Regions from separate parts of the Homo sapiens genome. Here all the other regions are reported to be linked to region 3. Evidence: microRNA targets listed by miRTarBase, many of them from high-throughput screens and not tested one by one. Region 3 holds a microRNA gene; each other region holds the end of a gene's coding sequence.
What was found. Region 3 holds the annotated microRNA hsa-miR-6794-5p (CAGGGGGACUGGGGGUGAGC, at 1,687-1,706, shown strand). A microRNA usually pairs through its seed, bases 2 to 8, with sites in the 3' UTR of a target mRNA and lowers its output. Matches are read on the target gene's strand: a 7mer-m8 pairs with bases 2 to 8, a 7mer-A1 pairs with bases 2 to 7 and ends in A, and an 8mer does both.

Region 1 (4,196 bases), not on the chromosome of region 3:
TACCTGGCAGAGCGTGCCCGGTTCTGCCACCCCCTAGAGGGCCAAGGGGAGGTGGGCACCTCACATGAACCCCTCTAATGTGGCCTCTCTCCTTCTTCCCTCCGGCAGAACCAGAGCTGGGGTCTGGGGCGGGCCCTGCCGGCACAGGCACCCCCAGCCTCCTTCGGGGCAAGAGGGGCGGACATGCAACCAACTACCGGATCGTGGCCCCCAGGAGCCGGGACGAGAGAGGCTGAGGGTGGTGGCGGCCCCTGAGGCAGACCAGGCCAGGCTTCCCCTCCTACCTGGACTCGGCCAGCTGCCTCCAGGGACCGCCCGTCCATATTTATTAATGTCCTCAGGGTCCCTTCTGCCATCTAGGCCTTAGGGGTAAGCAGGTCTCAGTCCTGGCACCATGCACATGTCTGAGGCTGAGCAAGGGCTGAGAGGAGAGGCTTGGGCCTCAGTTTCCCTCTGTGAAGTGGGGGGAGGCAGGCCTTCAAGGAGGGATAGAGGTACAAGGCTTCGTCTCATCTGCTGTCTGAGCATCCAGGCCCAAAGGCACTGAGGGAGTCAGGAGCTGGGGCTCGGCACATGCAGAGATGACAGGGCAGGGGGCAGTCTTCCTCCCCCTCCCCGACCAAACCTCGGGGAGCCCTCCTGTGCCCCTCCCTCCTTGTTGTCCAGTGCTGGGCTCCCCACCCCGAGGTCAGGCTGCCCAATCCTCTGACTGGATCACCGGGGGCTTCTTGCCTCAGTTCTTCCCTCTGAGCCCCCAGGCCCTCCCGCATCTCAGGTTGGGGATGGGGACATGGAGAGGAAGGGGCCGCCTACTCCTGCAAATGCTTGTGACAGATGCCAGGAGGTAGATGTGTGCTGGCCAATAAAGGCCCCTACCTGATTCCCCGCAGCTTGGTCTCAGTGTGTGCTTAGATGGGGGCAGCTGGGAATGAGGCTACGACGGAGAGGGCTAGAAATGGGCGGTGGAGAATGCTCTGTGCTGGAGGACAGAGCCTCCTGGAGGTATAGGCTGCAAGGTGCAGGGCCAGGAAGCCTGTGTCTCTGGACATCAGGGAACAGCTCTCCCACAACTGGTCATTCATTTGGTGCTCACTCATTCATTCATCCCCCTGATGCCAACACAGAAGAGTCAAACACAACTGCTGCCTCCAAGGAGGTCCAGGTTGAAAAACAAACTGGTTTTTATTCTAAACACGTACTAGGGCAGCATGCTGGGGGGCCTCTCCTGCCTCCAGAGGTGCCCCTGCTCCCCACTGTGGCCCTCTTTAGACAGAGTAGGAGCTCGGGCTACCCACATGCAGCCCAGCCCTTAGCACCCAAGGGCCTGCCTGTGCCCCACTCTCTGCCTGGGCTAGGGAGGCCCAGGACCCTCGGAGTGGGCAGGCCCACCCTTTCCATGGGTCACCAGGGTCTCAGTGCCCACTTGTCCTCCAACCAACAGTGACACGGCACCCTCCACACGGCCTGTGGCTGCCAGTGCCACCACCGCCTGCTCCGTAGGGAAGCCCATGCGCTCCAGCTGCTGCAGCCTGTTGGGGGTGGGGGGAGAAGTGGGGAGTGTCAGGGCCACCCCGGCCCCTATACCAGGGGACCCCACCTCTGCCCACCCCACCTTACCGCAGAGAGGAGACAGAGGACTTGGACAGCCATGGTGCGCTCTGGGGTTCCTGGGCTGGCCCGTCAAGAAGCGAGGCCTGGATGCCCTCCTGCAGCATCTGCTCATCCAAGGCCGCCCACATCGGAGTCCCTGGGGAGAAGCTGGCCCCAGCCCAGTCCAGGCCTGCCTCTGAGGAGCCCTCCCAGGTGGGCTGCACAGGCCTCAGGCTTGGTGGGGGCAGGGCTGAGTCTTCCCAGTGGGACCAGAGGTCAGGGGAGGCCACATAAGGCGGTCCAGGGATGGGAGGCCTGGAGGAGTGGGAAGAGAAGAGGGCCTGACTGGCAGCCCTGCCACAGTGCCCACCACCTGGACTGGCATCCCCCCCATCACCCTCACCTCACTCCGGCAGGATGGGTGACAGGCAGCTCCGCCAGGCTACCCGGGGTGGCAAGGAGCCTCAGGGGCCAGCACCCCGCCAAGGTCCTGCACAAGACGCCCTCCTGCAGCACCTGCAGCCGTCGCTCTGAGGGTTCCAGCCACCGGAAGGCCCCAGCTGCATCTGTCTGCCCGGGGCAGGGCGGCCGGTCAAGGAAAACCAAAAGCAGCCAGGGGTGGGCCCACGCCACAGGCCAGGCCCCATGCCAAGTGTGCTGGCCACCATTCCCTCCCGTCTCCTCACTGTGGACCAGCATGGAATAGCGTCACCCTGGTCAGCAGCAGAGGCTCAGAAAGGAAAAGGGATCTGCCTGAAGCTACTCAGCCAAACAGAGCCAGGTATGCCTCACCCCAAGGCCTGGGCTCACCCGTGACCCACTCTGTTCCCAGAACCCTATGCACCTTTTCAGGTCTGTAACTCAAGACCCACCCGTCCTGGAAGAAGTCCCATGGACACACCTGCTATTGCCTTCAGACAGGCCTGGATAACTCCTGTCACCAATCCAGAGTGCAGAGGCCAGCCTGTTCTCTCCAGTGGCACTGTTTTCCCCGATAGGTATGAATCATCTTAGGGCTGGACGCAGTGGCTCACAGCTGTATAATCCCAGCACTTGGGGAGGCTGAGACGGGAGGATCACTTGAGGCCAGGAGTTCAAGACCAGCCTGGGCAACATAGACCCCGTCTCTACAAAAAATTTTTAAAATTAGCTGGACGTGGCAGTGCACACCTGTAATCTCAGCTACTCAAGTGGCTGAGGCAAGAGGATCGCTTGAGCCCAGGAGTTTGAGGCTGTAGTGAGCTATGATGGCGTCGCCACACTCCAGCTTGGGTGACAGAATGAGACCCTGTCTCTAAAAATTAAAAAAAAAATCTCAGAAGCAGAACACCAATAAAGAGTGCTCTAGCACGACTTATTTATTTATTTATTTTTGAGACAGAGTCTCACTCTGTCACCCAGGCTGATATGCAGTGGTGAAATCTCGGCTCACTGCAACCTCCAACTCCGAGGTTCAAGCAATTCTCCTGCCTCAGCTTCCCGAATAGATGGGATTACAGGCACGTGCCATCACACCTGGCTAATTATTTTGTATTCTTAGTACAGGGTTTCACCATGTTGGCTAGGCTGGTCTCAAACTCCTGGCCTCAAGAAATCGGCCCACCTCAGCCTCCCAAAGTGCTAGGATTACAGGCGTGAGCCACTGCACCCAGCCTCTAGCACCATTTATTAAAAAGAATATTCTTTTCCTCATTGAATCGACTTGGCACTCTTGTCAAAATAAATTGACTATACAGTAAATCTAACAGTTTATTTCTAGATGGTCAATTCTAGTCCATTGATCTGTATGTCTATCCTGATGCCAGTACCACAATATCTTGATTATTATAATTTTGTACGGCTTTTTTTTTTTTTTTTTTTTGGAGAGAGTCTTGCTCTGTCGCCCAGGCTGGAGGGCAGTGGTGCAATCTCAGCTCACTGCAACCTCTCTCCTGGGTTCCAGCAATTCTCCTGCCTCAGCCTCCTGAGCAGCTGGGATTACAGGCGTGTGCCACCACACCTGGCTAATTTTTGTATTTTTAGTAGAGATGGGGTTTCACCATGTTGGCCACGCTGGTCCTGAACTCCTGACCTCAAGTGATCTGTCTGCCTCGGCCTCTCAAAGTGCTGGGATTACAGGTGTGAGCCACCGCACCTGGCCACTTTTGTAGTTTTAAGTTTTGAAATTGAAAAGTGTAAGTCTTCCAGGTTTGCTTTTCTTTTTCAAGATTATCTGAGGTATTCTGGGTTCTTTACATTTCCATATTATTTTTAGGACCAGCTTGCTAATTTCTGCAACAACAACAAAGACAGCTGAGATTTTGATAAGAATTGTGTGGGATCTATAAATCAACTGAGTAGCATTACCATTTTAACAATATTAAGTATTCCAATCCGTGAACATGAGATCTTTCCATTCACTTAGGCTTTTAATTTTCTTTTTTTTTGAGAGGAAGTCTCGCTCTCTCGCCCAGGCTGGAGTGCAGCAGCGCTATCTTGGCTCACTGCAGCCTCTGCCTCTCGGATTCAAGCAATTCTCCTGTCTCAGTCTCCCAAGTAGCTGGGACTACAGGCGCCTGCCACCACGCCTGGCTAATTTTTGTTTTTTGGGGTTTGAGACCGGAGTC
Region 2 (4,202 bases), not on the chromosome of region 3:
TATACATATGCATATAATAAAGAGTATGAATTTAAAAGAATAGGGGTTATGTAATTAAGTCTGTAGACATTAATGTTACATTTTTGGCTAGAGGATTTTTTTGGTACAATTATACTTTGGGCACAGGGAACTGGAGAGTGGGAAAAGGTGGAAAAAGTCAGAATTTCAAAGTAAATGACTAATGTCTTCCTCTGGTGTGAACCTAAATTCAAATGTCAGTGCTTCCAGTCTTATGACTGTCTTCTCAACATGGACGAGGCATTAGTCAAAGAGCTAGTCCTTCACATGGTCACTGAATGCTCTTGGTCACATGCACCATTTGATGACATTCTTGTACCCACATGTTCCTTCTACCCACATATCATACTTATGCAGTTAGGCTCATAGGACAAATAGCTACTCAGAGACTGGTTCCAAATTTCAAGCTATATTTGATATGCAATTGAAAATGTATGTCAATTTTTCTAAATTTTCTACATTTCTACCCTATTTTAGAGGGTGCTTTTAAAAAGTACAACAATTTAAGTTCAAAGAAGGCTTTACTTAGAAATATGTTGAAATTACATTCTACATAAGGCATATGGATCTCTACTTGCAAAGTAGTTTTATGAACTAGAGCCAGACTTGTCCCACATGTAAATTTGGAAGCATTCAAAGTTTAAAAGTTTGAAAACCTAAAAGGATAGTTCCCCTCTAAGCTTGCAGGGTAAGGTCCTGCAAACTCCCCTGAGCAGGAGAAATTTGGGAACGCACAATCAGCACTATTTAGCGGGGGGGGGGGGGGGGCGGGGAGGGGGAAGAAAAGGATTACTGGGTTTGCAAATGAATTCCCTAGACTTTCTTAATGTTTACCTTAAAAAAAATTAGAATCATACCACAGCTAGATTCTGCCATCTCACAGATGCTGGATAAGTGGTCAGAAGACATGTCTTTTGCTTTCCAGAAAAGTTTGTCATATAATCTCTTTTCTCCTACAGTGCCAATGAGATGCTTATCAAATCATGTTTACTTGTGAGTAACACATATAAATGGCATTTTACCACTGGTTTTGGTCCTCTATCCTTGTGTTCCATTACTAGGAGTTGAAGTTAACTCTGAAAAAAAGGTAAAATATAGTTGACCCTTGAACAATGCAGGGATTAGGGATGTTGACCCCTCATGTAGCAGTAAATCTGTATATTAACTTTAAACTTCCCAAAAACTTAACTCCTAATAACCTATGGCTGACTGGAAGCCTTACTGATGATATATTAATAAATAATCAATTAACACATATTTTATTATATAGATTATAAACCTTATTCTTACAACAAAGCTAAAAATATTAAAGAAATCAAAGAAAATATATTTACTATTCATTAAGTGGACACGGATGATCAAAAAGGTCTTCATCCTTGTCTTCACGCTGAGTAGGCTAAAGAGGAGGAGGAAAAGGGGGATGGTCTTGCTGTCTCACGTTGGCAGAAGCAGAAGAAAATCTGCATATATATACTGATCTGCACAATTCGAACCCACGTTGTTCGAGGGTCAACTTTAACTCACTTTTAACCTGCCAATTCAGTCAACTAGTTAATTTTTCAAATTTTCCCCTCCAAAAAGTCTCTGCTTTACCTTTGGGAGCTATAAACCCTGTAAGATAACTCAAGTTCCACTTTCCTAGCCAGGCTCAGGAAAGGCATTTCAAAGTTCCTTCATCTTTCTTTATAAAAAAATGTCAGGCCGGGCACAGTGGCTCACGCCTGTAATCCCAGCACTTTGGGAGGCCGAGGTGGATGGATCACGAGGTCAGGAGATTGAGACCGCCCTGGCCAACATGGTGAAACCCCGTCTCTACTAAAATACAAAAAAAATTAGCTGGGTGTGGTAGCACGCACCTATAGTCCCAGCTACTCGGAAGGCTGAGGCAGGAGAATCGCTTGAACTCAGGAGGCGAAAGTTGCAGTGAGCTGAGATCGCGCCACTGCACTCCAGCTTGGGCAACAGAGCGAGACTCTGTCTAATAAATAAATAAATTCATGGCAAATGTACTGTTGGTTTTAACATTTTACCTCTTTTCTATTCTCAACTCGTAGGTCCTGCTATTCTTGTTAACCCCTGGGAGTGACTAATGGAAGACTCAAACTAAAAATTACTGTTGCCAAAGTTTTTAACAAATGATAAATCAAAAGGAATTTGCAGTTAGGGGATTATTGAACTGACCACAAAGGATTAGAAAACCAAAACCTCTCTACTGAATTAAATGTGTTCCAATACTTACAACACTGCTTGGTACATACTATTATTATGACTAGAATACTAAATTGAACTAATACTGGCTTTATTTTCCCTTCACCATTAACATTTTAAGCTGTTTTTGAGTTTCAACTTCTTAGAAAAGGCAATTTCTGAAAAGCATAAATTTGCCTTTTCCTGCTATTTATAATAGAAATTGAATAAGAAACATACTAGAAGTATACATAATTTTAAACTTAGAATTTAGGGATCATGTAAATAGCTGCCTACTTATAATCTGTACTATGCATTTCCCAAAGAGTTTTAACATTACTATTTTAGTTAAAATTGTATTACAGAAGCGAAGTTCATCAACCTCCTGCCATTACTGGGTATATCAAATTAAAATGCAATGTTAACATGTGGAGAAAAAAAACTTTATTGGTATTACAGCAAAAAATTCACATAAGATACATAAATTATGATACCTCAAAGCTAGACGCAAATAAAATACACCTAATTATACAAATTCTATACAATTAAATCAAGAACATTAGGAAAATTTTTTTGCAAAAATGTCAAAAAAAGATTTGATCTGGTCGGGTATAGTGGCTCACACCTGTAATCCCAGCACTTTGGGAGGCCAAGGCGGGTGGATCACCTGAGGTCAGGAGTTCAAGACTAGCCTAGCCAACTTGGTGAAACCCCATGTCTACCAAAAATACAAAAATTAGCCAGGTATGGTGGTGTGTGCCTGTAATCCCAGCTACTAGGGAGGCTGAGCCACGAGAATCGCTTGAACCTGTGAGGTGGAGGTTGCAGTGAGCCGAGATCGCACCACTGCAGTCCAGCCTGGGCGACAGAGTAAGACTCCATCTCAAGAGAAAAAAAAAAAGATTTGATCAAACCAAGATTTCAGAAAAACAAAACCAAAAACACTGTGACTTGGTTAACACTTATTTAATTTTGGGAACACAGTAAAAAACAGAAACAAAACATCTATTTCTTCACAATTGTGAAAATGTCTGGCTTGAAACACCTTTGACATTTATCTCACTTTCGCTCTCAAGTTTCAGGCTGCTGCATCCATGGCGGCTAGCTGGCAGTGATGCTCTTTTCTGCTCTCAAGGTTTCTTTGGGCTTGGAATAGTTCCACGGCCGTCTATTTTCTGTGAATCCATAAAGTTTTCTAAGGGCCACTCGAGCAGCCTCTTCTTCTGCAACCAATACTGTTTCCCCAGGTCCTTCTGCAATCAACTTTTTATCACTAGAAAGAGAACAAACAGTAGTCTTAAATTACATGGAATATTGTAAGACAGTACACAAAGCAGTTATAAAGCAATTATGCCTTCTACATCTATTTCAATAATACCCATTAGAAGTAACACAATAGCTCTGATAGATCATCTTTTGGATTTTAACTAGATTTGTTGCAAGTTCATTACATATGGTAATTAGACAAAGATACACTTACGTTTCCTTAGAAATATATACAACTCTGTCAAGTCAAAAAAGCAAGTCGTATCTAGGTTTTCAATTGTTGATGAGAGAATTGGAAGAATATGTAAATAAATATCTCCCTACAAAAACCTGAAACTAGTAAAAATATTATCAGGAATTATGACTATTTTTATTTTTAATGTGTGATATAACTTGGGAAAAATAAATATCTCCTTACAAAAACCTGAAACTAGTAAAAATATTATCAGGAATTATGACTATTTTTATTTTTAATGTGTGATATAACTTGGGAAAAGATTCTGTTGAAAAAATTATGCCTTTTGAGTCTGTCATTTAAACTTTAACACAAATAAGAAACCAGAAACCAGCTCTATATTTCAAATTAAGAACTTTAGGCTGGGCATGATGGCTCACACTTTTTTTTTTTTTTTTTGAGACTGAGTCTCACTCTGTCGCCCAGGCTGTAGTGCAGTGGCACGATCTTGGCTCACTGCAGGCTCCGCCTCCTGGGTTCGCGCCATTCTCCTGCC
Region 3 (4,202 bases):
CTCATCAATAATACTATTTTCATTGAAACCATTAGACATTTTCAAAGACACATTAAAACACATATAGGTTGGTGCATACTTTTTTTTGGCTCAAGTTACAATATGGCTAGGCACAGCCTGTTGGATTCTGTCTTTATTTAATTTTCTTTTTCTTTTTCTTTTTCATTTGAGATGGAGGACTCTCTATGTTGCCCAGGGTGGTCTTGAACTCCTGGGCTCAAGCAATCCTCCTGCCTCAGCCTCCTGAGTAGCTGGGATTATAGGCATGTACCACCACATCTGGCTTAAATTTTGATATTTTGGCTTATGATAGATTTTTGGCATTAATTTTAGGCTTTTCAAGTATTGCAATAAGATATTAGTTTTTTCTTTTCTTTTTTTTTTTTTTTGAGACAGTCTCACTCTGCTACCCAGGCTGGAGTGTAGTGATGTGATCTCGGCTCACTGCAACCTCCACCTCCCTGGTTCAAGCGATTCTCTTGCCTCAGCCTCCCAAGTAGCTGGCATTACAAGTGTGTGGCACTATACCCAGCTAATTTTTGTACTTCCAGTAGAGATGGGGTTTTGCCATGTTGGGCAGGCTGGTCTCAAACCCCTGACCTCAAGTAATTCACCCTCCTCTGCCTCCCAAAATGCTGGGATTACAGGCGTGAGCCACTGTGCCCGGCCTCTTTTTCTTTTCTTTTTTTCTTTTTTTTTTTTTGAGACAGGGTCTCTCTCTCTGTCACCCAGGCAGGAGTGCAGTGGTATAATCAGCTCACTGCAGCCTTAGCCCCCTGGGCTCAAGTAATTCTCCCACTTCAGCCTCCCAGGTAGCTAGGACTACAGGCACACACTACCACACCTGGCTAATTTTATTATTTGTAGAGACAGGGTCTCGCTATGGTTTTGTTGTTTGTTTGTTTGTTTGTCATTGCTTTTGTTTTGAGACAGAGTCTCGCTGTGTCACCCAGGCTGGAGTGCAGTGGTGTGATCTTGGCTCACTGCAACTTCTGCCTCCCAGGTTCAAGGGATTCTCCTGCTTCAGCCTCCCAAGTAGCTGGGATTACAGGCACCTGCCACCACGCCTGGCTCATTTTGCGTTTTTAGTGGAGATGGGGTTTCACCATGTTGGCCAGGCTGGTTTCAAACTTTTGACCTCAAGTGATCCACCCACCTCAGCCTCCCAAAGTGCTGGGATTACAGGCATGAGCCACCGTGCCCAGCCTCATTATTTTTACTGTGTGGCTTGGGCTTCAGTCTCCTCACCTGTAAGATGGGACAGTAGCAGCAGTATGTACTCTGAGGGGCTGAGAGAGGGGCCGGGCTGAGGCAGAGTGCCTATGAGCCCTGTCCCTCTGTGTCCCCTGCCACAGGCCTATGAACGCTCTGAGAGCTTGGAGGTGGCCTTCGTTACTCAGCTGGTGAAGAAGTTGCTTATTATCATCTCACGCCCTGCGAGGCTGCTGGAGTGCCTGGTGAGGGGGCTGGGCATGGGTAGGGGTGGGTTGGTAGACCCTGGGAGCCTGTGGTGAGCCCACTCCTGCCCTGCCTCAGGAATTCAACCCCGAGGAGTTCTACCACCTGCTGGAGGCGGCCGAAGGACACGCCAAGGAGGGCCACCTTGTGAAGACGGACATCCCCCGCTACATCATCCGCCAGCTGGGCCTCACCCGTGACCCCTTTCCAGGTGCCGGCTGGTGGGCGCAGGGGGACTGGGGGTGAGCAGGCCCAGAACCCAGCTCGTGCTCACTCTCAGTCCCTCCCTAGATGTGGTGCATCTGGAGGAACAGGACAGTGGTGGTTCCAACACCCCTGAGCAAGACGATCTCTCTGAGGTAAGGCTGGGTGGCTAAGCGGTCAGTACCCTGGTTCCTGGGAGGGCAGGGTGGGGCTCATCTCCGGCTTCTTTGCCCTCAGGCTTTGTGGATCTCTTGGTCCTACACTCTGAGCCTCAGTTTTCCCATCCATAAAATGGGATTAATAATAGCTCTTCCAGAGCCTGGCATGCTGGCTCATGCCTGTAATCCCAGCACTTTGGGAGGCCAAGGTGGGCAGATCACCTGAGGTCGGGAGTTCGAGACCAGCCTAACCAACATGGAGAAACCCCGTTTCTACTTAAAAAAAAAAAAAATGCAAAAATTAGCCAAGCCTGGTGGCACATGCCTCTAATCCCAGCTACTTGTGAGGCTGAGGCAGAAGAATCACTTGAATCCAGGAGGCAGAGATTGCTGTGAACTGAGATTACACCACTGCACTCCAGCCTGGGCAACAAGAGCGAAACTGTCTCAAAAAATAAAATAAAATAAAATAAAATAATTGCTCTTCCCCTGTGACCTCTTTGTCATGTTAAAATCCATGAAACATAAAATTTAATTTACTTTTTTAACCATTTTATTTTATTTTTATTTATTTATTTATTTATTTTTTGAGATGGAGTTTTGCTCTTGTTGCCCAGGCTGGAGTGCAATGGCACTATCTCAGCTCACCACAACCTCCATCTCCTGGGTTCAAGCAATTCTCCTGCCTCAGCCTCCCGAGTAGCTGGGATTACAGGCATGTAACACCACACCCGGCTAATTTTGTATTTTTAGTAGAGACTAAAATTTCTCCATGTTGGTCAGGCTGGTTGCAAACTCCCAATCTCAGTTGATCTGCCCATCTCGGCCTCCCAAAGTGCTGGGATTACAGGCATGAGCCACCGCGCCCGGCCTTTTTAACCATTTTAAAATGAACAATTCGGGGCCGGGTGCAGTGGCTTAGGCCTGTAATCCCAGCACTTTGGGAGGCCAAGGCAGGAGGATTGTTTGTGCTAAGGCATTTGAGACCAGCCTGGGCAGCATAAAAAATCAGCTGGGCGTGGTGGTGCACCCCTGTAGTCCCAGCTACTCGGGAGGCTGAGGTGGGAGGATCCTATGAGCCCAGGAAGTCAAGGCTTCAGTAAGCCATGATCACACCACTGCACTCCAGCCTGGGCAACAGGGTGAGACCCTGTCTTGAAAAATGAAATTAAAAATAATAAAGAATAGGCCAGGTGCAATGGCTTATGCATGTAATCCTAGTACTTTGGGAGGCCAAGATGGGTGGATCACTTGAGGTCAGGAATTCGAAACCAGCCTGGCCAACATGGTGAAACCCCATTTCCACTAAAAATACAAAAAAATTAGTTGGGCGTGGTGGCACATGCCTGTAATCCCAGCTACTTGGAAGGCTGAGGCAGGAGAATTGCTTGAACCCGGGAGGTGGAGGTTGGTGTGAGCCAAGATCCCACCACTGCACTCCAGCCTGGGCAACAGAGCGAGACTCTGTCTCAAAATAATAATAATAATAATAATAATAATAATAATAATAATGATTAATAGTAATAAATAAACAATTCTGCAGCATTTAGTAATTCACCATGCTGTACAGCCATTAGATCTATGTAGTTGCAGAACTTTTTTATCACCCCCAAAGGGAAACCTCACACCCATTACACACTCCCTCCTCATTCCTCCCTCCCTGCAGTCCCTGGCAACCACTAATCTATTTTCTCTCTCTGTGGAATTGCTTTTTCTGGATATTTCTTTTTTTTTTTTTTTTTGAGACAGAATTTCACTCTTGTTGCCCAGGCTGGAGTGCAATGGCGTGATCTCGGCTCACTGCAACCTCCGCCTCCCAGGTTCAAGCAATTCTCCTCCCTCAGCCTCCTGAGTAGCTGGGATTATAGGCATGCGCCACCACACCTGGCTAATTTTGTATTTTTAGTAAAGACAGGGTTTCACCATGTTGGTCAGGCTGGTCTCGAACTCCTGACCTCAGGTGATCTGCCTGCCTTGGCCTCCCAAAGTGCTGCGATTACAGGCGTGAGCCACATGCCTGGCCTTTTTCTGGATATTTCCTATAAATGGGATCGTATGCTCTGTGGCCTCTTATGACTGGCTTATTTCACTTAACATAACGTTTCTGAGGTTTATCCATGTTGTAGCTTGTGTCACTGCTTCATTCATTTTTATAGCCGAGTAATATTCCATTGAATGGTAGATGCATTCATCCACTGGTGAACATTGGGTTGTCCATCTTTCATCTGTTGTAAATAGTGCTCTTATGAATGTGGGTGTACAAATATTTGGCTGGACAACTGCTTTGAGTTATTTAGGATATACGTCTAGAGGTGGAATTTCTTGGTCATATGGTAGCTCTATGTTTAACTTATAGAGGAATCCTGCATGGGCTTTCGAGCA

Region 1: miRTarBase lists EMID1 as a target of hsa-miR-6794-5p. Seed matches in the 3' UTR shown: 7mer-m8 at 607-613.
Region 2: miRTarBase lists MRPL44 as a target of hsa-miR-6794-5p. The part of its 3' UTR that is shown has no 7-base or 8-base seed match.

The regions. Positions count from the first base shown.
Region 1 is chr22:29,258,709-29,262,904 of GRCh38, forward strand. It overlaps EMID1 (EMI domain containing 1), which reads left to right. Exons shown (of 15, transcript NM_133455.4): 15 at 109-889. The coding sequence ends at 236. It overlaps RHBDD3 (rhomboid domain containing 3), which reads right to left. Exons shown (of 7, transcript NM_012265.3): 5 at 1,994-2,156; 6 at 1,618-1,905; 7 at 1,164-1,529. The coding sequence ends at 1,352. Among named protein-coding and RNA genes, the nearest start is that of RHBDD3, 7.2 kb to the right of the region's middle. RefSeq lists enhancers at 888-1,742, 1,743-2,596.
Region 2 is chr2:223,966,139-223,970,340 of GRCh38, reverse strand. It overlaps MRPL44 (mitochondrial ribosomal protein L44), which reads right to left. Exons shown (of 4, transcript NM_022915.5): 4 at 2,627-3,478. The coding sequence ends at 3,307. Among named protein-coding and RNA genes, the nearest start is that of MRPL44, 11 kb to the right of the region's middle.
Region 3 is chr19:12,850,579-12,854,780 of GRCh38, forward strand. It overlaps MIR6794 (microRNA 6794), which reads left to right and starts at 1,682; the gene lies at 1,682-1,749. It overlaps MAST1 (microtubule associated serine/threonine kinase 1), which reads left to right. Exons shown (of 26, transcript NM_014975.3): 8 at 1,356-1,457; 9 at 1,537-1,669; 10 at 1,750-1,817. RefSeq lists an enhancer at 1,611-2,111.